4 linked regions of the Homo sapiens genome follow. The protein of the gene in region 1 interacts with the protein of each later gene in a pairwise test. Each region holds a gene or a part of one and is shown in the gene's direction. Other genes may lie near its edges. The genes, in order: PID1, DNAAF6, CPSF7 and NME1.

Evidence for each region.
Region 2: the proteins of PID1 (region 1) and DNAAF6 interact in binary tests that used the Homo sapiens proteins (3 or more experiments, as listed by UniProt).
Region 3: the proteins of PID1 (region 1) and CPSF7 interact in binary tests that used the Homo sapiens proteins (3 or more experiments, as listed by UniProt).
Region 4: the proteins of PID1 (region 1) and NME1 interact in binary tests that used the Homo sapiens proteins (3 or more experiments, as listed by UniProt).

The regions. Positions count from the first base shown.
Region 1 is NC_000002.12:229,023,437-229,030,292, reverse strand, and holds the end of PID1 (PTB-containing, cubilin and LRP1-interacting protein), read left to right. Parts: intron 1-4,184; coding exon 4,185-4,661; 3' UTR 4,662-6,320; downstream 6,321-6,856. UniProt on the Homo sapiens protein: Increases proliferation of preadipocytes without affecting adipocytic differentiation.
Region 2 is NC_000023.11:107,216,573-107,223,613, forward strand, and holds part of DNAAF6 (dynein axonemal assembly factor 6), read left to right. Parts: intron 1-98; coding exon 99-171; intron 172-2,291; coding exon 2,292-2,397; intron 2,398-6,172; coding exon 6,173-6,269; intron 6,270-7,041. UniProt on the Homo sapiens protein: Plays a role in cytoplasmic pre-assembly of axonemal dynein.
Region 3 is NC_000011.10:61,402,204-61,405,991, reverse strand, and holds the end of CPSF7 (cleavage and polyadenylation specificity factor subunit 7), read left to right. Parts: intron 1-1,287; 3' UTR 1,288-3,263; downstream 3,264-3,788.
Region 4 is NC_000017.11:51,156,518-51,162,668, forward strand, and holds the end of NME1 (nucleoside diphosphate kinase A), read left to right. Parts: intron 1-3,462; coding exon 3,463-3,564; intron 3,565-4,642; coding exon 4,643-4,755; intron 4,756-5,210; coding exon 5,211-5,328; 3' UTR 5,329-5,651; downstream 5,652-6,151. Other genes in the region: NME1-NME2 protein, read left to right, coding at 3,463-3,564, 4,643-4,755. UniProt on the Homo sapiens protein: Major role in the synthesis of nucleoside triphosphates other than ATP. The ATP gamma phosphate is transferred to the NDP beta phosphate via a ping-pong mechanism, using a phosphorylated active-site intermediate.

The DNA.
Region 1 (6,856 bases):
GCACCCATTGAACAGTAACTCCTCATTCGTCCCTCCCCCAATCCCCCGGCAACCACAATTCTAATTGGTCTGTTTCTATGATGTTAACTACTCTAAATACTTCATACAAATAGAATCATACAGTACTTGTCTTTTTGTGGCTGGTGTATTTTACTTAGCATAATGTCATCAGAATTCATCCATGTTGTAGTATCTGTCAGAATTTGCTTCCTTTTTAAGGCTGAATAATATTCCAGTATACATTATACATATATACTGTATTTTGTTTATTCATTCATCTATCAACGGACACTTGGATTTCTTCTACTTTTTAGCTATTGTAAATAGTGCTGCTATAAACATGTGTACAATATCTCTTTGATATACATCTTTCAATTATTTGGGGTATATACCCAGAAGTGGAACTACAGAGTCATATAGTAATTCTACTTTTAATTGTTTTTTTTTTTTTTTGAGACGGAGTGTCACTCTGTCACCCAGGCTGGAGTGCAGTGATGTGATCTCAGCTCACTGCAACCTCTGCCTCCCGGTTTCAAGCGATTCTCCTGCCTCAGCCTTCTGAGTAGGTGGGATTACAGGTGCACACCATCATGCCTGGCTAATTTCTGTATTTTTAGTAGAGACGGAGTTTCATCATGTTAATCAGGCTGGTCTCGAACTCCTGACCTCGTGTTCCGCCCGCCTCTCCTTCCAAAGTGCTGGGATTACAAGCGTGAGCCACTGCGCCCGGCCTCTACTTTGAATTTTTTGGAGAACCGCCACGCTGTTTTCTACATGGTATAGAAATTGTACTGTTTTAAATTCCCACCGACAGGATACATGAATTCCAATTTTTCTTCATCCTTGCCAACACTTGTTATTTTCTGCTTTTTTGATAGCCGCCATCCTAACAGGTGCGAAGTGGTATTTAACTGTAGTTTTGGTTTGCATTTTTCTAAGGATGGTAGCATGTTTTCATGTTTTTTTTTTTTTTTGGCTTCAAAAAATATCTATTAATTTCCATTGCCCATTTTTTTTTTCCCCAGGGATTGACATACAGGAACTTTATTTTTTTAAAGCTTTTTTTCAACTTTTAGGTCCAGGGGTACAAGTGCAGGTTTGTTACATGGGTAAATTGCGTGTTGCCGAGGTTTGGTGTGTTAATGGTCCCGTTGCCCAGGTAGTGAGCATGATGCTTGGTAGGTAGTTTTCAACCCTCACCCCCGCAACCCTCCCCCTCCTGGTGGTCCCCAGTGTCTGTTGTTCCCATCTTTATGTCCATGTGTTCTCAATGTTTACTCCTACTTATAAGTGAGTAAGCAAGTGGTAGGAGTAGTCAGAGGGGTTCTTGTGTTGTGATAAGTGTATATAAATTGAGTGAGCCGCTTATTAGTAGAACTGATAATAGCCACTTATTAGTAGAACTGATAATAGGATAATAGGATGATGGCTAGGGTAACTTCGTATGAAATTGTTTGGGCAACAGCTCATAATACGCTCATTAGCGCATAGTTTGGATTGGATGCTGAGAACATGTGGCATTTGGTTTTCTGTTCCTGAATTCACTTCAGACAGTGGCCTCCAGCTATGTCCATGTTGTCGCAAAGGACGTGATTTTGTTCTTTTCATGGCTGCGTAGTATTTATACATGGTGTATATGTACCACATTTTCTTTATTCAGTCCACTGTGGATGCCTTTGCCCATTTTTAAGTTGGGTTTTTTGACTTTTTGTTGTTGACTTTTAGGTGTTCTGTATGTATTCCAGATATTAATTACTTATTACATATATGACTTGCAAATATTTTCTCCCATTGGATGGGCTGCCTTTTTAAATATGTTGACATTTTCTATTTATGCACAATTTATTTGGTGCGTAAACACCACAATTTATTTGCTGCCAAACGATCACAGATTGTCCACATGAGTGGCTGAGATAGTGACACGTTTGCTTTCTGATGGCTCAATTTACACGAACTTTGATGCATAAAGTGATTAAAAATATTGGGTAAAACTAATGGCTATGTGTATAAGGTATATATGAATCATAATCATAAATAAATTTCAGTTCAAACTTAGGTTATCTCCCCAAGATATCTCATTATGTATATGCAAGTATTCCAACATCTGAAAATAGCTGACATTTGAAATACTTCTGGTCCCAAGCATTTTATCTAAGGGATACTCACCCTGTATTGTTAGTTTTTGTCCTGCAATATTATTCCCTCTGCCTCCTCCTGTCCTTTCCCACTGCCTCTGTTCCTAATCCAGGCCACCCTTGCCCGCTGGCTGTGTCTCTGCTATCAGTCAGGCCTCCCCATCCACCTTTCTTCCTGGCATCAGGAAAGTCTGAGTTCACAGGCTCTATCACATCCAGGCACTCCTTGGACCTTGGCCCTTCAGTGGCATTCCAGAGGAGCAACGACGCCCCGATTCCTCAGACCACATGTGGGGCGATCCTGCAAAGGTCAGCCTATTTTTATCCAGAGGTCGTGGACCTCTTACACGGCTTCTGCTCCAGGGCTGTCTTAGGCTACCGCTTTACGTGTGCTCAGGTTAGCACAGCCTCTTTGTCCAAGCTGATTGAGACTTTCTCTACTACTTGCCTTTACTGTTTCCCTCCTCCTTTTTAGCACCTTGACTTGCTGGGCTCCTATGTAGTCTGAGGCCAATGTTTTGAAATCCAATGCCTCTTCCTGAGGCCTTCTGTCATCAGTATGCCACTGCCTCCTCCACTGAACACTCACAGTACTTTGCTGTTCCCCTTCCTGCCCTTTCCACGGCCTGCCTTACATCAGAGTCATAGCTGTGCAGGTGCCAAGGGTGAGAGTTTTGTCCTGGTGAACTGTGGAGCTAGGATTTAAACCTCAACTTCACCTGCCTCAAAGACTGTGCTCTGAATGAGTATTCAATTATTTCTTTCCCGTGGATATTCGGCCCTCCCCAGTTTCATAGCAATCCCCATGCCTATGTGTTATATTGCCATTGTGTATAAGAGGTTCCCAATAAATACTTCTGGAATGTATCACACTTACACATCTTTATTAAAAAGTTATTTTCTTAAAGGGACTACTCTTGTCACAAAGATACAATAGTCCTTAACTTCTGTGTTTTAATTTTTTATATGTGGCCTGTATTGTCCCACTAAATATAACCATTGTTTGGAATCATTCTGACCAAATGTCCCCTCTCAGTTCTCACGGTTTCCACGGACCCTCTTCTGGTCTTTCTCTCCTCGCATTCGTAGTATTTCTATTTGTGTCACTAATTTTAAATGTAAGTATATACTATTTCATATTATTTCTTAGATGATCTCTTAAGTTTTATGCCTTTCCATAATGCCTATGCCCCAATAATAGTAATTCTGTGCATTTTGTGGAATGAATAAAACAATGAAAGGATGAAAATCCCTTCTTGGCATATTATAAACACGCTTTTAAAAAGACAGTATTTGAATCGTTTGGAATTATTTTTCTTAGTTTTCATACTGCCTACCTAGCTAGGTGATAAGCCAGCATTCTACTCTTGATTCTTCTGTAGATCTTTCATTTATTATCAGATCAACAGATGCTCATCAGTTCAAAAACAGTTTAGGTTAAAAAAGAACTGGGCACTGCTGTTATTTTTAAAAATTATCTTGGGAAGGAAAACTATCATGCTTTAGGCCATAATTTCAAGAGAACAGTTTTTGCGTCCTTGGCATTAGAAGCAGGCAGCCTAAGTGAAATCAAACATTGAGAGATTTGGAAAGAGACCCAGGCTAGGAGATAAGTTTAATAAAGATTTTGTTTTTCCAACTCAGTGTCCTTTTGATTCCTTCCTATTATTCAATTCTGTGTGTGTTTGGCCGAAAATAAACTTTGAGTGACTTTATGATGTTAAAGGAATGCCAAATTATGTAAAAGATCATACTCTTCGTTTTAATTGGGGTTTAAAAAAGGAGTAAGGAGAGGGAGAGTAGTTCTCTAGAAATTAGATTTTAAAATCCAACTCTATTCAAATAATTTCAATACATTTGCCAAGTAGGCAACTCATTAGAGAGAAAAGGTAGAAATTTTGATGAGTTATTCTTTCAGGGAGCAAGAAAGAAGTGTCTTCACCTTCCCAATGTGACACCATGACTGTGTGGAACAGCTACTCATTCAGTCTATCAGAACAAAGAGCCTTCTGCTGATGCCTCCCTTTTCTTCCTCTCTTGCATCTGCAGGTTACCTACCTGGGCAAAGTCTCCACCACTGGCATGCAGTTTTTGTCAGGCTGCACAGAAAAGCCAGTCATTGAGCTCTGGAAGAAGCACACGCTAGCCCGAGAGGATGTCTTTCCGGCCAATGCCCTCCTGGAAATCCGGCCATTCCAAGTTTGGCTCCATCATCTCGACCACAAAGGGGAGGCCACAGTGCACATGGATACCTTCCAGGTGGCCCGCATCGCCTACTGCACCGCCGACCACAACGTGAGCCCCAACATCTTCGCCTGGGTCTACAGGGAGATCAATGATGACCTGTCCTACCAGATGGACTGCCACGCCGTGGAGTGCGAGAGCAAGCTCGAGGCCAAGAAACTGGCCCACGCCATGATGGAGGCCTTCAGGAAGACTTTCCACAGTATGAAGAGCGACGGGCGGATCCACAGCAACAGCTCCTCCGAAGAGGTTTCCCAGGAATTGGAATCCGATGATGGCTGAATGAACTTGAGACGCTTCAGCAAAGGCAGCATTGGTCACGGAGTTCAAGGGAATAGATGAGTAAGCAACGTTTCAAATTTGGGATGAAAAGACTGCCAAACTATTGGCTGACCAAGGTTTTTAAATTCAGAAGAGCAATTCTAAATCTAAAGAAATGTATCATTAAAGTAATTACGTTACATTGAAACCTGCTGCTGCTGTGACTGTGAGGAGGGTGGGAGTGTGGATGGGGAGGAAGGTTCTAGGCTCTCTTATTTTTCTCATTTCCCAATGCCTCTCTGTGGGAGAGCTCCATGCCAGTTTTCACCACGCTCAGGCAAATACTCTGCAGCTGTTATTGGATGGGCCATTCCGATCTGCCTTATGAAATTCCACAAGAATGTTAGGGGCACCTATGGGATCTCTAGTGGGGTGGGCAGGGTGCTGATGGGGACGCTGGCCGCAGGGAGGAAGGAACATCTCGGGAGGGCCCTCTGTTCCTCTCCCACGGCAGATGCCCTCCTCTGTATGCAAATCAGCACAGCCTTTATTGAGCTTTACAACTAACAACCTGATAGTTGGCAGTTAATTCACAGTTACAGATAATGCTTTTATTTACATAAATATACCAAGTAGTACCCTCTTATTGTATTCACTTCATCTATTTTCTTAGAATACTTGCAATTACTAATGACCCCTTCCCTTTCCCTCCTGCTGCCCTGTCCACCCTCTTTCCCCTTCTAACATCCTTAGAGGGATGAAATCTCAGCATATGTTGCAGGACACCAAAAGGAAGAAAACAATCAAGCAAATAAAATAAACAGTCAAACAAACCAGGAGTTTAAAACAACAACCCCAACAACAGAAGCCTTGGCAAAGAGGAATAAGTGATCAGCAAGTGAACACACTCTATGTCAACTCTCCTTTTATCCAGCTGAGATTTATGGTAACTTATTTAATTAATGGTCCTGTCTGATGCATCCTTGATGGCAAGCTTCAAATCTGATTTGGTATCACCGAGGAAACCTTGCCCCCATCACTCAGCATTGCACTTAGATACAGAATGAGTTAGATAAACTTGGCTTGTCTAGAGACCCATGTCATCTTAACCTAAAGGGAAATCTTATTGCGTTATCATAAAATTGATGATATCTTAGGGTCAGAATTGCCCTTTTTTTTTATTTTGAATGGGAAGTTCTCACTAAAACAATCCTGAGATTTCTTAATTTCATGGTTCTTTAAATATTATAAACACAGAGTCAACATAGAATGAAATTGTATTTGTTAAAATACACACATTGGAGGACAAGAGCAGATGACTACTTTTCGAAGTAATGCTGCTCCTTCCTAAAAGTCTGTTTTCAATCCTGGTAATATTAGGGGCACTGCGGCACCTAAGAAGCCTTAAATGAGAGCTAATCCAATCTAGAGAGCGATGGTGTCAGCATTTCGGTCTGCATATCTGTGTGTCCGTATCTGCGTTTGTGTGCGTGTACGTGTGCCCCTGTGTGTGGGCCCAGTTTTCAGGCATGTAGAATAAGCATGGAGTCATATTGAGGAGGACTCACTTCTTGAAGATATGCTTGTTGCTTTACAACATATGTAAGCTATTCTTTAGCATAAATGCATTCATTCTTTAATAAAAATATGTTTGCATTAATAAAGCTGAGGAGTTTCATACTTTGTGTCTGTCCTTTTTCAAGTAATAAAAACATGAAGAACAAATTAGATCAAATAGTTCTATCAAAAAATATATTTAAACTGGGTCATAAATAACCTATTCCTGGATTGCGTTTAAAAATCTTGTTTTATTTTCTAAATGCTCAATTTGTTTTTAATTTTTGCATGCCCCTGAGATGGTGAAGTGGCAATAGTTGAAATAGTTCTATAGTATGGTGGGTTTGTTTCAGTGCGGGGTCTTCCAGAACATGTTGCAAATGATTGCTATTTACAAAAATCTCGTGTATGTCTTTGAAGAACCTAGACTGAAATCCTGGAAGGTAAACACTGAGTGATTTTTTTTCTGATGGGACTGGTTAAAGAATGTCTCCTCCAGGCTATGATATCTCAGAATGGCCCCATTAAACAAGCAAGACAGGTGGCCATGGAGCCTATGTTTTTTGAGCAATGCCCTTCATGGAATCAATAACAAATATAAAGGCTTCCAAAGTAAAAATATAGGTGCCTGTTATAAAGAGATGAATTCAAGTGAGAAT
Region 2 (7,041 bases), on another chromosome or scaffold:
GTTTTTTTATGGAAATCCTATCAAATTTAAAGTATCACTAGTCATATAGGTTATACAAGTATTAATTACAGAATATTGAACTTTTTCTCCTCCCTCAGACAAATGGTTTATCTACTATTGGAGCCATGGGTCCTGGGAATATTGGACCACCCCAAATAGAAGAGCTCAAAGGTAAGTTATTTAACAAAGCAATATAGATCAATATAATCTTTTCCTTGGTAGAGAAATTATAGGGAGAGTAATAAGTACTAATACTAGTATTTATTAAGATGAACTAAATAACAATGTATTGTATACTTGGAAATTGCTAAGATAGTAGATTTTAAGTATTCTCATCACAAGTAAATGATAAGTAGGTGAGGTAATCCATATGTTAATCAGCTTGAGTTAGTCATCCACTGTGTATACATATTTCAGAACATCATATGGTATATCATAAATATATACAATTTTTATTTGTTCATTAAAAATGGAGAAATGAATAAATAATTTTTAAATAGAAAAAAGATGAACTAAAATAATCATGGAAATGATGAATAGCCATTTACATATAAAGATGCTGTTTTTACTCTACCACTGCAGGTAAATAGTTTTTCTAATAATGGAAATATATTTGCCTTGAATTATCCACATTCCTTGCATATTTTCTGAGATAGAAGACCAAGAAAGTCACGTGTGGTTAGATCATTTTTTATTTTTTAAGGTCTATTTACCAAGATGCTTAGCTTCTTTACCTTCTACCTTCCTATATTCTAGCAATTTCATGGAATTCATTCATTGAATTGTTTAATAAATATTTATTGAGAACCTATTGTATCAGGCAGTATGACCATCTCTGATACTACAATGCAGATCAAAACAGAAAAAGTCCCTGTTCTGATTGAGCTAATAGACTTTTGGAGAAGACAATAAAACAAATAACTACACAATTTTATCTTACATTAAGAGGCTTATACATTAACATCTTTGAGTTTACTTATAAAAAAAAGTCCAATAAATAAGGCTAAATAATATTTTTACATTTCCCCAGCATTTTGAGCTATACATTTTTACAGAGTTGAACATTTTACAAATCTTTAAAAATATAAAAGGCTCTAATTCTGTTGGTCATGATCACCATTAACCAGAGGATAGGAAGGGAGAGGAAGTGAATTTCATTCATCAATTTAGTTAATTGCAAAAGATTAATCTGGACAAATGTTTAAAATAATGGCTAAAATGAGGTCTAAGGATGGTTTTAAAATTTCAGTTATTATTGCTATACATACTCAAGAGGCTATTTGCCTTACCCAAGAGATATTCGCTCCATGGCAGTCTAATTCACATTTCATGTATTTCTGTGCTGCCTGTATTTCTGATAATGTAGGTCTAATAATCTTTAAATTCTGAAGGCAATGATTCATATGTAAAATGTTATATATAAATCTGTAGTTAGGCTTTACAAAGCCCGTGCTAGATAGAAGCTGATCATTTCAAAAGAATTGCCAGAATTGAAAACCTAACAATCGGGTGCATTTCTGGGAATGCTTAAAATGACTCAAAGCAGTGCTCTGCACCTAATGCAGGTCTCCACCGGATGCTACAATAGTTAAAACAAATGTGAGCTGGGTTTTTGCATGCCTACTGGAGCCTATCCATTTTTAAACATTTAAAGATGACATGCAGAAACCCAACCTCATGCTCAGCTCTGCATGAGGAAAATGCTGGACTAAAAAATGATCATTGTATCCACTGCTTTCAGTTTCTTTAATTGATATTATTGAGAATTATGTCATGCTTGCATGGAAAAGATATCAAAGCGTTTTTATATAGTAAAAACAATGCAAGATAAGACATTTCTCTCCACATCAGATTGATTGTAGTTGTAATTTTTTCTTTTATATAAAAATATTTTTAAATATAATCCTATTTATGTTTCTGGAAAAATGTGTAATATTTCTTTGCATATGTATATGGAGAGAGAGAGAGAGAGAGACTGGAATGATACACAACAGAATACTAACATTGATTATCTCCAGGCAGTTGGATTGTAGATTATTTTCTTCTTTTTGTTTATGTTTTTGCCAAATTCTCTACAGTTGTTATTAAAATTCTACAATGTATTGGTTCTGTATTGATAGAAACATTTAGTCAGTAGTTACTAATTTAGTTTGTTTTGATCAAAAAAAAAAGCTAGCGATTACAAATAATGTTTTATTTCAATGAACCCAAACTGAGTGTGAAGAAGAACAGGAGCAATTTAGAGAAGGAAAAAAGCATGAGCTTCAGCTTTATCTTCCCTTTCTTCACAGTCATCCCTGAAACCAGCGAGGAAAATAATGAGGACATCTGGAATTCAGAAGAGATTCCAGAAGGAGCAGAATATGATGATATGTGGGATGTTAGAGAAATCCCAGAGTAAGTCAAATGAAGCCAGGAATGTCTTTAGGAGTTTAAGTTAGCTGTGTCATCTGATAACATTTTACTTTTTACAAGATTCATAAAGTAACATACCACATAAAAGATAAAACTACAGTGACACACGGAAGGCATGTGTAATTGATTATTTTTTTCCTTCTAGAGCAGAAACAAATAATAAAGCATAACACCTTCCTTTCAGTTACTATCTAGCAAAAATGAAAAATATAGTCATTTCCATTATAAATTTATATTTAATGTCAATTTGTTGTATAATGTGGAACTAGCAGTTGGAGAAAGCCAGCCCATTAAATTGCAAGCATTCATACAAACTAAATTACAATGCCATGTTTATTTGTCAAGCACTTGCTTTTAATTACTCAATGTTCCACAATTTCGGTAAAAGGCTATGTTCTCTCTCCAATTATCAATTATTACCCAGACTTGTTTACTAGATATTCTAAGATTATATTTAGTGTTCAGTGTATTTTGCAAGCAGGGTTCAAGACTTGCTTTGTAGCCTTTTCAATACAATCAAGTTGTAAATATGAAATTTAGAATTATTATAAAAAGCCTTTTATTCTGATTTTAAAAGCACTCATACTTTTAAGAACCTTAAAATATATTTATATACATAGATTAAATTATTGGTCAAATAGACTAAGCTTTACATATGTGTATTTTGAAATAAAATTTGGATTGACTATTTAGAATAGCAGGAAAAATAAAGCCAACACTTACTAAATTATAATGTACTATATAAATTCTTAAAGACTTCTATGGCAAGTGATCTGACAACTTTTCTAATACTGAATACAAAACTATCCAGTATTTTTTTTTTTTTTTAGACAGAGTCTTGCTCTGTCGCCCAGGCTGGAGTGCAGTGGCACAATCTCTGCTCACTGCAACCTGCGCCCCTCCTGGGTTCAAGCAATTCTCCTGCCTCAGCCTCCCATGTAGCTGGAACTACAGGCACCTGCCACCACGCCCAGCTAATTTTTGTATTTTTAGTAGAGACGGGGTTTCACCATGTTGGCCAGGCTGGTCTGGAACTCCTGACCTCAGGCAATCCGCCCGCCTCAGCCTCCCAAAGTGCTAAGATTACAGGCATGAGCCACTGCGCCCAGCCAAAATTGTCCAGTATAAAACAAGCAAATAAACAAAAACTCCATGCTTCTGCCTTCTACATAAGTTCTGAAAACAGAAGCAGTGGGAGACTGCAGACAATTAACTAGAAAGAAGTATCCAGCTTTCAAATAAACAATGTCAAGACCATAAACCTCATAAAAAATCAAAGGAGATTTTAAAACATTTCTTAGAGAACGAAGAGAGTAAATTTGAAGTTATGTTTATATAGTGTCCACGTATCATATGAAAAGTAATAATTAAGTCACTTATTTGTCATATTGTCTAACAAATGTCAAATATCCATATGCAGCAAACTTCAAATTTGAGTAATTTTTCCCTTTTCATCCTGATGTTTGATGTTAGGTAGATAGAACATCCATGAAAGCTTTAAATGAATAATAACTTCAGGTTATTATGAGGAAAATTGCTTTATAAGATTTTAAAAATCTTCATCTTCTACCTTATGAAAATACATTTCAACATTTCTCAGTGGATGCAGAGGAAAATAGGTAAAGAACATGAACAGGCAGTTCAAAAAAGAAGAATCACAAGTGGCCAAGTAAAAGAATAACAAGGAGCTGAGCTAAGGCACTGGCCTTGGGGAGAAGTATGAGGGTCTTTATTTGAGTGAGTTTTGGATGAAGAGTTGGTATTTGGTTAGATAAAATGGATGAGAGGAGAGCGTCAAAGATGATGCTGAAGTTATTAGCTTGGGTGACTGAGGAAATGATAATGCCATTAACTTTGATAGGAATTATAGGTTAAGAAGAAGCAGTGAGTTTGTTTTTGTTTTCTTTCTTTCTCCCTTTCTTTCTTTCTTTCTTTCTTTCTTTCTTTCTTTCTTTCTTTCTTTCTTTCTTTTTCTTTCTTTCTTTCTTTCTTCCTTTTTTCTGAGACAGAGTCTTGCTCTGTCGCTCAGGCTGGAGTGCAGTGGTGTGATCTCGGCTCACTGCAACCTCTGCCTTCCGGGTTCAAGCGATTCTCCTGCCTCAGCCTCACAAGTAGCTGAGACTACAGGTGCATGCCACCAGGCCTGGCTAATGTTTTTTGTGTTTTTTGTAGAGACGAGGTTTCACCAAGTTGGCCAGGCTGGTCCTGAACTCCTGGCCTCAAGCAGTCCACCTGCCTCAGCCTCCCAAAGTGCTGGGATTACAGGCCTGAGCCACAGTGCCCAACCAAATTTGTTTTTTTTCTTCGCCAACCACCGCCCCCCCGGCCCCGCCCATTGTTCACTGCAGCCTCAACCTCCCGGGCTCAAGCAATTCTCCCACCTTACTCTCCCAAGTAGCTGGGACTACAGGTGCACACTTTATTTTTGTGAAGACTGCGTCTAACCGTGCTGCCCAGGCTGGTCTCAAACTCCTGGACTCAAGCAATCTTCCTGCCTCAGCCTCCCTAAGCACTAGATTACAGTTGAGAGCCACCATGACTAGCTGGTTTTTGATATGTACACTTTGAGTTGTCTTTGGGACATCCAGGCAAACCTTTGTAGTAGACAGTTGGAAAATTGCGTCTGGAGCTCAGGATAAGAGCAGGAGCTTGAGCAAATCCATTAGGAGCAATGAACATATAGATCAATCCTCTGTTTGTTTTAACCTGGCTTCACCTTCATAAATAATTGGTAGATGTTATAGCCTATTAAGAGAAAAGTGCCCCATAGCAAATAGCTGCTTATTGTTAGCCATGTTCAAACTCAGAGAAATCCCTTTTTTATTTTTGGGCATTCCTATTGGCAAATGGTCAGAAGTTCAATCAAGTCCTTTAGTCTTACTATCCAGAGATCTACAATTTCTTCATTAAGGTAGCATTAAGCATAATAATAATAATAATAATAATAATAATAATAATTTGTAAATATTTGTTTCATTCTATCTGAAGAGATGGGGTACCTTGTGGTGGGTGCTTCTATAAACCATTGTATTCCTGGAGGCCCAAATTTGGAGGGAGGAATGATTTGTGAATTGTCATGTGTGGGGTGAAATATCAGGAAAACCTTTCATTACACTCAGAATTCTGTAAGACTAGATTCTAAGCACTATGGTGTAGCTGTGCTGACTACATTACCAGTGTTTCTATTGTAGAATTTTAGCCGTGGAGATCATTCAGTTCAAACTCACCCCTCCCTCCCATAAATCATACAAATGTAGAAACTGAGACCCCATGAGTTTGTGACTTGACCAAGGTCCACAGTTAATGACAGAAACAGTACTAAACCTGAATTTTCTCCTCTGCTCTGTGGTTTAAACTTGGCAGAGGAAGGTTTCTATCAATCCCTAGGTTATGGACTCAGTATTTTTCTGAGCTATTGTTTTTCAGGAACAGACTTTCCTTTTTTTTCTTCTGCTTTTAATCTTATTAGAATCTTATTACAAGTTCCCTCAATCTATTTTATTTGTCTAGCTCTGAAACAGTTAAAGCTTTATTTTAGAAAATAATAACAATCCTGCCTTTCAGTGTTTATTTTGACCACATTTCTAGACTTCTTTTCCTTTATGTTCTATTATATGCCTGAAGACCTGCAAGCACTTTATTTGTTTAGTCCTTTTATTTTACCTAATAGCATATCCTCATAAGTTACTAGTTTTCTTTTCTGTGACAGGAAATTGCTCTTTCATCTGAGTCCCTATAATCATTGATTTTTTTTCAGGTATGAGATTATATTCAGACAGCAGGTGGGAACTGAAGATATATTTTTAGGGTTGTCAAAAAAGGACTCCTCAACAGGTTGTTGCAGTGAACTAGTGGTAAGCCTCTCCTCCCCTTCTTCATTTTCTATACAACCATTGTAGCTAAATTGACTGACTATTATTTACATAATATTGTAGGCAAGGTTGTAAACTCTTTAAAAATCGTGGTTGCTATGTTTCACGTACTAGGGTAACAATGGGATAGACAGTTTAAAATTGTTAACTTGTACAAAATAAACTAAGTTTACACATTTGGATGAGATTTACAAATAAACATAATGGAATCATATGACACAATACACAATTTCTATTTTTATCCCTATTAAAACTTCCCAATTGGATTGGACTGGATTTTCTTCCATCCTAGTTCCGTCCCATGCATGCCAACTGATTGGTTATTAACTTATGATGAATTGACAGGCAATCAGAATGAAGTATCTCCTTCCCCGCATCTGTCTTATCTCTTATTTCTGTATTTCTCGTAATGACTCAGCTTACAATGTGGGACTTAAAAAGGGATTTTCTTAATTTTGGGATCTGACTTCTGATTAAAAACACTAAGAAAGACATCTAAAATGTTACTTTGCTTTCTTATCTGAATGACGCTACCGAATGTTGGAGAGCATCCTTTACCAGGTCACTGTTTCTGTATAACAGTTGTGGCAATACCAACAATATCAATGATACCACCTTACTTTTGCTTATTTCATCCTGATAATGACCTTGTTGAAAAATCTGGGCCTAACCCAGAGTGTGGAATTTGATTCATTTTAGCAACATTAACAAGTAATTCTTGTGTTAAAATTTTATTTTTTGAGATCAGGAACTT
Region 3 (3,788 bases), on another chromosome or scaffold:
ATTGAAAACTGAGCTTTCTCTTCAATTTGGATCGAATTCAAAGATTCAGAAGCCCTAATGGTATGTAATTGAGTGCACTGAGGGCTTCAGTTTTCCCTTAGAGAAAATGGGACAAATACCAGCCTGCGTAGGTGTTTAGACAGGCCAGGAAGGCTTAGGCCATATAGATTCTGAGGACCCAAGCTGAAAATAGTGTCATTTCGGTGTGTACAAGGATCAGGGAGGACGTAGATGTCTCCTCTAGGTTTTATAAGGCCACTTTACAGAAGTAGTTATATAAAAGGTAAACATTTGTGCGTAGGCTGTGTTGCCAGTTTGGGCATTAGGAGAAATTCTAATTCCTCATTTTCCCTTTGGCTATTAATTCTGTTTAATATGCTCAGACTGACCATACCACCACCCGCAGATGGGTATTGCAGCATTGGAACAGGTGCTGAGTATAGTAGGAACTTTGTTTGGTGGCCATGTGACAGGTGGCTTAATAGACCCTTTTGGGTAAAACTTCTTAACTGCATTTAGGTTTCTTCCATGCTCTGCTTTCTGTTCTGGCCTGGCCACGTGACTCCTGCTTAGTGTTAGTATGTTTCCTGGTTCCTCACCTATGGCTGTCATGCGAGGAAAGACTTAAAATCTCGAGTTTTAGTACACTTGGAAAACCTCTGGGGCTGTGTTTGTGTACACACATACTCATAAAGGCACTTTTAGCCAGGACTCCTTTAAAAAGAAAAAAGAAGGATTTAAGAGTTTCCTGTGTATGTGCATCCTGCCTGCTAGGGCCTCTTGGGTGTTTGGGGATTAATGGATTTGGTTGTGTACATACTTGTTTTCTTACCACTAAACCTCCCATTTCCAGATTTTTCCCCCTCCCCTTAAGGTAAGCTATGACTTGCACAGAATAGACTTCTTAACCTATATTTAAACTCACCTTATTCCCTTTTAGCAACTTTTCTTGAAATATGTCACAGTTTCCATACTTTTGCAGCCAAAGTCTCCTTTTCAGTCGAACGTTCAGAGACCTCATTTTGTTCTGTTTTTTCACCGAATCTTTATAGTGGATGTCACTGCTTTTTTTCTCTCTACTCACAGTAGCTTCTCCTCCAGCCATTCCTCACCACTTCTAGTGTCAGACAGTCCTGCTTTGTTTTCCCAGACTTGCATTCTCTGTCTGCATTCCTTACTTCTTATGTTGTAGCGTTAGAATATGTGTGTTTTATATAAGCCCCTGTCATTCAGAAAGTAACCTCTAACTTGTGTTTTCTTTCTTTTCTTCTGATGTTCTCATTGCAGGAGTCTGGTTGGAAGCAAATGTTTTTTTAATGGACTTGCATCTCCTCACCTTGATCAGGACTAAAGGACGGAGGCCGCCCCACCCCCTTCCCTTTCCTCCAAACCCCTAACTCCCTCCAGACACCCAGGGAATACCCTCTGCCCCACAGGATTGAAGACTGCTTGGCAGTCCTCCCAATCCCACACCTCCTGTTTGCCAGGGGAAAGAACCTAAAGACTTCGTGTGATTGGGAGGGGTGGCAGACAGGAAGAAAACATGTCCAGGCCCCTGGTCTCCATAGAGAATGGTGCTTTGTCCAAGAAAACGTATGAGTTTCTGATTCTCCGGGAGCCGTTCAATGGTGAGGTTGATGGGAAGACTTCCTTCCCAAAGAAAATAGATCCTCCATGCAGGATCTAGGAGAGTGACTGGGTGTGCCAAAATATGCCCAGGGTCCTGCCCTCAGCACTAGATTTAATGGGGCCAAGAGGGTCCAAACCCCTTGCTAACATACCACTTCTTTGTTTAACTCCTTTACCTTTCCAGCCCTTTGAGGAGGGACCATGAGAACAGAAATTACCTTATGAAAAGCTACTTCTGTTCCTGCTTTCCCTCTCACGTATTGACGGTTTATTTCTTTGACCTCCCAGAGGGCTGAACTCTTTCAACTCTGCGCTGCCCAGCCTTCTCAGTGGACTTGCCCCTCCTAAGCAGAGAAGGCCTATGAGGTTGCTTGCTGCTGGGAAGCCTGGCAGAGCCAATTACCACCCTCTGCTGCTTAGTGCTTGGGTACCTCTTGCAATAACCAGCTCTTAGTTGTTCCCTTTCCCTGGGGCTTTTCCATTTAACACATGGAGCCCTTCCCCCAGAAGGCTACTTCCTTGTTTTAGAGGAAGGTACTGCCCATTGGGAGATGGGGACATTGGGACCTCAGCAATGAAGAACCCTTGTGAAGTAACCAGGAGGAATGGGGAAAGAAGCAAGTTGGGCAGGATATGGCCTACTTCCATAGGCTTTTCTTTTTTCAGGTTTGATGTAAGCATGGGCTTACATCCCCCAGGTACATACTTTTACTTATTGTGGGATAACCTGGCACTAGTAGGCAGGTAAAGTCACAAATTTGGTGTCTTTTCACCTTTTGACTGTTGACTTAATAGCTCCTCTCACTCTGCCTGGAGATACTTCCTGCCTCAGATGAGGAGCCAGAAGAAACAGAGCCCGACTTGAATGAACTCAGCTCAGAGTTCTAAGGACCAGCATTCTGGGGGCCATTTTCTCTACAGGCAAATGGAATTGCTTTTCCATAACATCCAAATTGTAATGTGGTTGCTGCTGAAGGAGGAGGCAGCAGCGAGGTCCTGCGGTACCCATGGGGTGATGCTACTTCTGCATGCATCTACAGGGCATCTGACACCTAACATGAGACGTGGCATGTGAGATGAGACTTGGCATGTGAGACATAGGGTCACTAGAGACCCTTCTGGGTCAGAGGAGAGAGACTGAATTGGACTAAACCCGTCCTCTGTTCCCAGCACGTTTCTCATATAGCCCTCAGTCACTGAGGGAGTCCCCCGCAGGATTGGAGAGGCACATTCCCTTGGGACAGAGGCTACAGGTTGGAGCTTTTTTTCCCCTGTCCCCCAACCCCATCCCCACCTCCACTTCAGAACATGGCACCCCACCCAACTGGCCAAGTGTTAAGTGATGTGCTTATTGAGAGCAACTCCGGGTGTCTTTTAAAATGTAGAGAAAAGGTGACAGTTTAAGGAAAAATATATATAGAATACCAGAAATGCCGTTTACCCGGAGAATTTTTTTCTCCCCATTTGTTTTGTTTTTACTCAATGACACCATTTTTAGTTTTATTTCCTGATAGCAAAAGGAAAAAAAACACCCATCCCTCAAAAAGGCCAAGGTCCCGTCCCCCTGTTGTCGGTGATTTGTTTGTCTTTCTGATAGGTTGAAAATTGTGTAATAAACTTGATGACGCTGTCAATCTTTTATACTGCATTGTATTTTTTTCCTTTTGTAACAAAATATTTTTAAATAATAAATGGGGTGTGAGCTGTTTTATGGATTCTGCATTGAATAGATTTGTTGAGGTGTCTGGGGCATGGGCATGGGCTGATGTAGACACTCGAATGATGGTGAAATGCCAAGTTCTTAGCTAGGATTGCATGTCAGGCAGTGATACATGGCTTTAGTTGACTGTGGAAAGCCTCCTAAGAGACCTCTAATGCAAACCTTTGGAGGCATCCCTTAAGGTTTAGCTTTTTTCCTTGGCCATCTAAACAGCTGGTTAAAGAAAACTTCTAAGTTATCCTTTACCCTTCAAGATTCCTAAGACTTATTTTCAGAGCAAATGTTCTACCTTGTGCAGTTAAATTCCAGTATCAAGTTCAGGAAGGGAAGAATCCTTTGATAGGAGTTAGAAGATCTGACTGGTAGTGCCTAGTTTACCACCTGTTTATCTAAATATGGACAAGCAGTGTAACCCTGGTCTTTTTCACCTACAAAATGA
Region 4 (6,151 bases), on another chromosome or scaffold:
CTCTACTAAAAATACAAAAATTAGCTGGGCATCAGGGTGGGTGCCTGTAATCCCAGCTATTCGGCAGGCTGAGACATAAGAATTGCTTGAACCAGCCAGGTGCGGTGGCTCATACCTGTAATCCTAGCATTTTGGGAGGCTGAGGCGGGCGGATCACCTGAGGTCAGGAGTTCGAGACAGCCTGACCAATATGATGAAACCCCGTCTCTACTAAAAATACAAAAATTAGCCAGGCGTGGTGGCATGCGCCTGTAATCCCAGCTACTCGGGAGGCTGAGACAGGAGAATCGCTTGAACTGGGGAGGTGGAGGTTGCAGTGACCGAGATCGCATCATTGCACTCCAGCCTGTGCAACAAGAGCAAAACTCCATCTCCAAAAAAAAAAAAAAAAAAGAATTGCTTTTGAACCCAGGAGGCGGAGGTTTCAGTGAGCCGATATTGCACCACACTGCAGCCTGGGCAACAGAGGGAGGGAGACTCTGTCTCAAAAAAAAAAAAAGAATTCCAATTCTCAAATCAAATAGGGGATAGTATGTTTTCTAAAAGGGAATCAATTTTGGACCCTTCTAGTGCATTTTAAAATTTAGTTTGACTTGCAATTTACTTCCTATGTGATATTTTAGAAAAACTGCTTTAGGGCTGGCACAGTGACTCGCCTGTCATCCCAGCACTTTGGGAGGCTCCGTCTCCAAAAAAAAAGAAAAAAAAGAAAAGAAAAACTGCTTTAATGTAAAAGAGGGTAGACTGATGTTCATGCTGAGAGGAGAATATGGTGTCCAAGGTCAAGGAGCTGGCATCTAATGAAGGTTTTCTTGCTGTATCATCCCATGACAGAATGGAATAGCAAGAGAGTGCAAGAGTGAGAGAGAGCAAGAGGGGGCTGATGTTGATTTTATAACAAACCCACTCCTGAGATAAGACATTAATCTGTTCATGAGGGTGAAGCCCTCATGACCTAAACACCTCCCATTAGGCCTCACCTCCCAACATTGTTGCATCGAGGATTAAATTTCCAACATACGAACTTTGGGGGACACATTCAGATCACAGCAGAAGGTAACATGAGATGGATGTGTTGTTGATCAGGCATTTACCATATGCTGGGCACATATGTTTTCTGATTTAGTCTTCATGCCAGCCTTGAGAAGTACTTACTCCTGTTCTCGTGGTTGTTAGTGATGAGCAACCTAAGGCTTGGAGAGGTTCAGTGATGTGCCTGATAGCATACAGTGATGCCACTGGAATTTTAACTTGAGTCTCTCTGACCCCTGAGTGCAGATACTTTCTCCTTTACATTGAATTTCCTATTAAGGATATATGGGTTTGGTGAAGAATGGACGGAAGGATAGCTGCCATGACTCTAAAGGGGCATTTAAATCTGGTGTGGAGGCAGGAAGCAAGGGAGAACTTGAGGTTCCCAACCCCCAAGCCCTTAAAAAAAGCCCGTGATCTGTTTTGCAGACTAAAGATAATCAGTTAGGGCCTGGCGTGGTGGCTCACACCTGTAATCCCAGCATTTTGGGAGGTCAAGGTGGGTGGATCATCTGAGGTCAGGAGATGGAGACCAGCCTGGCCAACGTGGTGAAACCCCGTCTCTACTAAAAATACAAAATTTAGCTGGGTGTGATGGCGCATGCCTGTAGTCCCAGCTACCAGGGAGGCTGAGGCGAGAGGATGGCTTGAACTCGGGAGGTGGAGGTTGCAGTGAGCGGAGATCGAGCCACTGCACTCCAGCCTGGGTAACAGAGCAAGACCCTGTCTCAAAAAAAGATAATTAGCCGGGTGTAGTGGTGCACACCTGTAGTCCTAGCTACTGAGAATCTGAGGCAAGAGGATTGCTTGAGCCTGGGAGTTTGAGGCCGCAGTGAGCTATGATCATGCCATTGCACTCCAGCCTGGGTGACAGAAAGACCCTGTCTCAAAACAAACAACAAAACCAACAAAAAGATAATTGGAACCAATTAATAGAATTAAAAAAGTATTCTGATAAGGGAAGGTCACCTCAGGGTCTGTTAGACTTCCACAACAAAAGTCTTCCATTTGGATAGGAAAGGACAGGGCGAGGGTTGGATCCCTACCACGGAGTGATTATATGGCCATGTAATTTTACTTTGGCAAGTGATGATAACTGGTGGCTGAATGATGGGGCTTCTGGGCAGCCAGTCTCCACATCTGTGTGTGTCTCTGATGTGTGTGATATGCGTCATACAGTGCAGTACCACAGAGCTGGAAAAACCATGGGACCCTGTTAGATTTTAACAAGCGTATATGCAGTACAAGAGAGAACACAGCCAAACTGAGTTGAAACTGCTAAGCAGATGGTTTGTTCTCTAGCTAACTTGATTCGTTCCCACATATTAGCCTTGCAGTATGAGAGGTTCTAATTCATTTTTCAGCAAAATTATTTATTACTAGATGTCATGCACTTTTGGGTGATTTGCAGATACCTTTGGTAATCACATGGTCATCACTGCTGGGCTTTTATCCTCTGAATAAACGTGAAGCATCCCTGGGTAATGGCCTGGTTTAGTTTGCTGCTCATTAAATGCCAAGACTTGCTTCCTGGTGTCCTTCTAACATTTTATTTGGGGTTTGCTCTGGGAATGGAAATTTATTGTATTGTTGATTTTCCTGTCTAAAATGAGATAGTTGAGGGCCAGGCATGGTGGGTCACGCCTGTAAGCCCAGCACTTTGGGAGGCGGAGGCTGGAGGATCACTTGAGTCCAGGAGTTTGAGACCAGCCTGGGCAACATAGTGAGACCCTATCTCTACAAATAATTTTTTAAAATTAGCCAGGTATGGCTGGGCGCGGTGGCTTACGCCCGTAGTCCCGGCCCTTTGGGAGGCCAAGGCAGGCAGATCACCTGCGGTCACCTGAGACCAGCCTGGCCAACATGGCGAAACCCTGTTTCTACTAAAAATACAAAAATTGGCCAGGCATGATGGCCGCCACCTGTAATCCCAGCTACTTGGGAGGCTGAGGCAGGAGAATCACTTGAACCCAGGAGGTGGAGGTTGCAGTAAGTCAGGATCACGCCACTGCACTCCAGCCTGGGTGACAGAGGGAGACTCTGTCTCAAAATAAATAAATAAATAAATAAAATTAGCCAAGTCTGGTAGTGTGTGTCTACAGTCCTACCTACTCGGGAGTCTGAGGCAGGAGGATCACTTGAGCCCAGGAGTTTGATTTTTTTTTAAATGAGATAGCTGGATTTAATTTTAATGTTCTGTGGTTTTATTATCAGTCAGTGCCAATAGGGAGACAACTGATATAAAATTGGAGAAGTACATTTAGTCCTGTCACTGCTCCCTTCCAGTGTGGAGAATGAATTGGGTTATAACAGAATCAGTGAGCCCAACCGCTCATGTTTTACATAGCAGGGTGGATGAGGGGAAATTAAATGGATTATATGTCCTTAGATGGTTTGGGGGTTATTCTCATTCTCTGTCCTGTTGAATAGGCTTCCGAAGATCTTCTCAAGGAACACTACGTTGACCTGAAGGACCGTCCATTCTTTGCCGGCCTGGTGAAATACATGCACTCAGGGCCGGTAGTTGCCATGGTGAGTGTGCCTGTGTGGGATACTCCAAGTATGCATTGCTTGTCATCTGTGCTAGGCTCTCTTCTAGACACTGGGGATACAGCCATGAATGAGACCAAATAGATACCTGTTTTCATATACCAGCTAATGGTTAGTGATAGGCTTCAGAAATGAAATATGCCCAGAAATGAATAGGAGTAGCAAATGATCACTTTAGATTGGGTGATCAAAGAACGCAATTTTTAAGCTGTGATCTGAATGACAAGAAGCAGCGATCTGAATGACAAGAAGCAGCCAGCCATGTACAGAATCACAGTGAAAAACATTTCCAGCCAAGCAAACAGCATGTGCAAAGGTCCCAGGGTGGGAATGAGCTTGGCTTTTTGAAGTACGGGAGGAGAGTTGAAATGCCCGAAGCCTGATGGGTGGGAGGGAAGTTGGGAGGTGAAGAGTTCAGAGGCATGGGCAGGGGCCTTCTCTCTTAGGGGTGTGTTGACCATATACTTCCTGAGTGCTGGGAAGCTATGGGACACTTCACACTTGGCATTTCTTTTTTTTTTTTTTTTTGAGACGGAGTCTTGCTCTGTTGCCCAGGCTGGAGTGCAGTGGTGCCATCTCGTCTCACCGCAAGCTCCACCTCCCGGGTTCACGCCATTCTCCTGCCTTAGCCTCCTGAGTAGCTGGGACTACAGGCGCCCGCCACCACGCCCAGCTAATCTTTTCGTATTTTTAGTAGAGACAGGGTTTCACCATGTTAGCCAGGATGGTCTCGATCTCCTGACCTCGTGATCCACTCCCCTCAGCCTCCCAAAGGGCTGGGATTACAGGCGTGAGCCACTGCGCCCTGCCCACACTTGGCATTTTAAGGAGGCTGCTCTGGTTGCTGTATGGAGAATACATTGTAGAAAGGCAAGCATGAGGGCAGGGAGATCAGGATCCTCAGTGCTGGAATAAGTGGATATACTCTATAAACATTTGTTCAGTGAATGAATATAATCTTAAGGGGCCTTTTTATTTTTCCTTTTTTGAATTAATAGTTGCCAGATTTTCTGCTGTGATTGGTTTTCTTCTTTGACCATATCTTCTTCTGTCCTTGGAGGTCTGGGAGGGGCTGAATGTGGTGAAGACGGGCCGAGTCATGCTCGGGGAGACCAACCCTGCAGACTCCAAGCCTGGGACCATCCGTGGAGACTTCTGCATACAAGTTGGCAGGTGAGATTTTGGTATTTTTCCCCCTTTTCCAAAATCTGATTTAGTTGCCACAAGGATTTGGGTTTCCGAGGCTGGAGGTAGACATGATACCATATGCAGGTTGATTTTATCGGAGTTTATTGTTTTCCTCCCTCTTAAGTTGGCGTTTGGCTTTGGTTGTTAACATCACTTAGTCGTACCTCTGTTACACGAAGTGTAGAACCTGGTACAACACACTTTGCTGGCCAGTCTTTCCTGAAGGCTCTCACTGTTTGCACCAGCGTGGCCGGGAGGGCTGGATGTGGGGAGGGCATTTTTCAGCCTTAAGTGAATGGCCATTGTAGGCTTTTTCTTTTAACATGGTCTAATGTCCATGGAGCTTCAGCTTTTATGCTGCTGTGGCTGTAGATTTCTGGCAATGGGCGCATTTTAATCCTTCTGGTCTTGGTCATGTGACTATCTCTTTCTCCACCCAGGAACATTATACATGGCAGTGATTCTGTGGAGAGTGCAGAGAAGGAGATCGGCTTGTGGTTTCACCCTGAGGAACTGGTAGATTACACGAGCTGTGCTCAGAACTGGATCTATGAATGACAGGAGGGCAGACCACATTGCTTTTCACATCCATTTCCCCTCCTTCCCATGGGCAGAGGACCAGGCTGTAGGAAATCTAGTTATTTACAGGAACTTCATCATAATTTGGAGGGAAGCTCTTGGAGCTGTGAGTTCTCCCTGTACAGTGTTACCATCCCCGACCATCTGATTAAAATGCTTCCTCCCAGCATAGGATTCATTGAGTTGGTTACTTCATATTGTTGCATTGCTTTTTTTTCCTTCTTTTCATGTACACTGAATAACCTGACCTAATAGAGAGTGTAAATACTATAAAAATGATTTATTTTGAGGTCTCACATACACACAGGCATTCTTTGCCTGCCCTTCTTAACCCCCGCATCCCTTCCACTCTTGGCACTGAGCTATTCAACAGGCATCTATGGAGCATGTGCTACGTGGCCAAGACTGGACTAGGTGCAGAGGATTCATCAGAAATGAAAGAAAACATGAGGGCTGGGTGTGCTGGCTTGTGCTTGTGATACCAGCTACTTGGGAGGCTGAGATGGGAGACCAGCCTGGGTAACATAGCAAGACCCTGTCTCACTAAAAAAAAAAAAAGAAAAATTAGGCTGGGTACGATGGCTCATGCCTTTAATCCCAGCTATTCAGGAGGCTGAGGAGGAGAATCGCTAGAGGCCAGAAGTTCAAGTCCAGGGTGGGCAACATAGCAAGACGCTGTCTTTACAAAAAAAAAAAAAAAAAATTAGCTCTGGTGCTGTGCACCTCTAGTCCTAGCTATTGGGAAGGCATAGGCAGGAGGATTGTGCCCAGGAGTCCAAGGCTGCAGTGAACCATGATCATG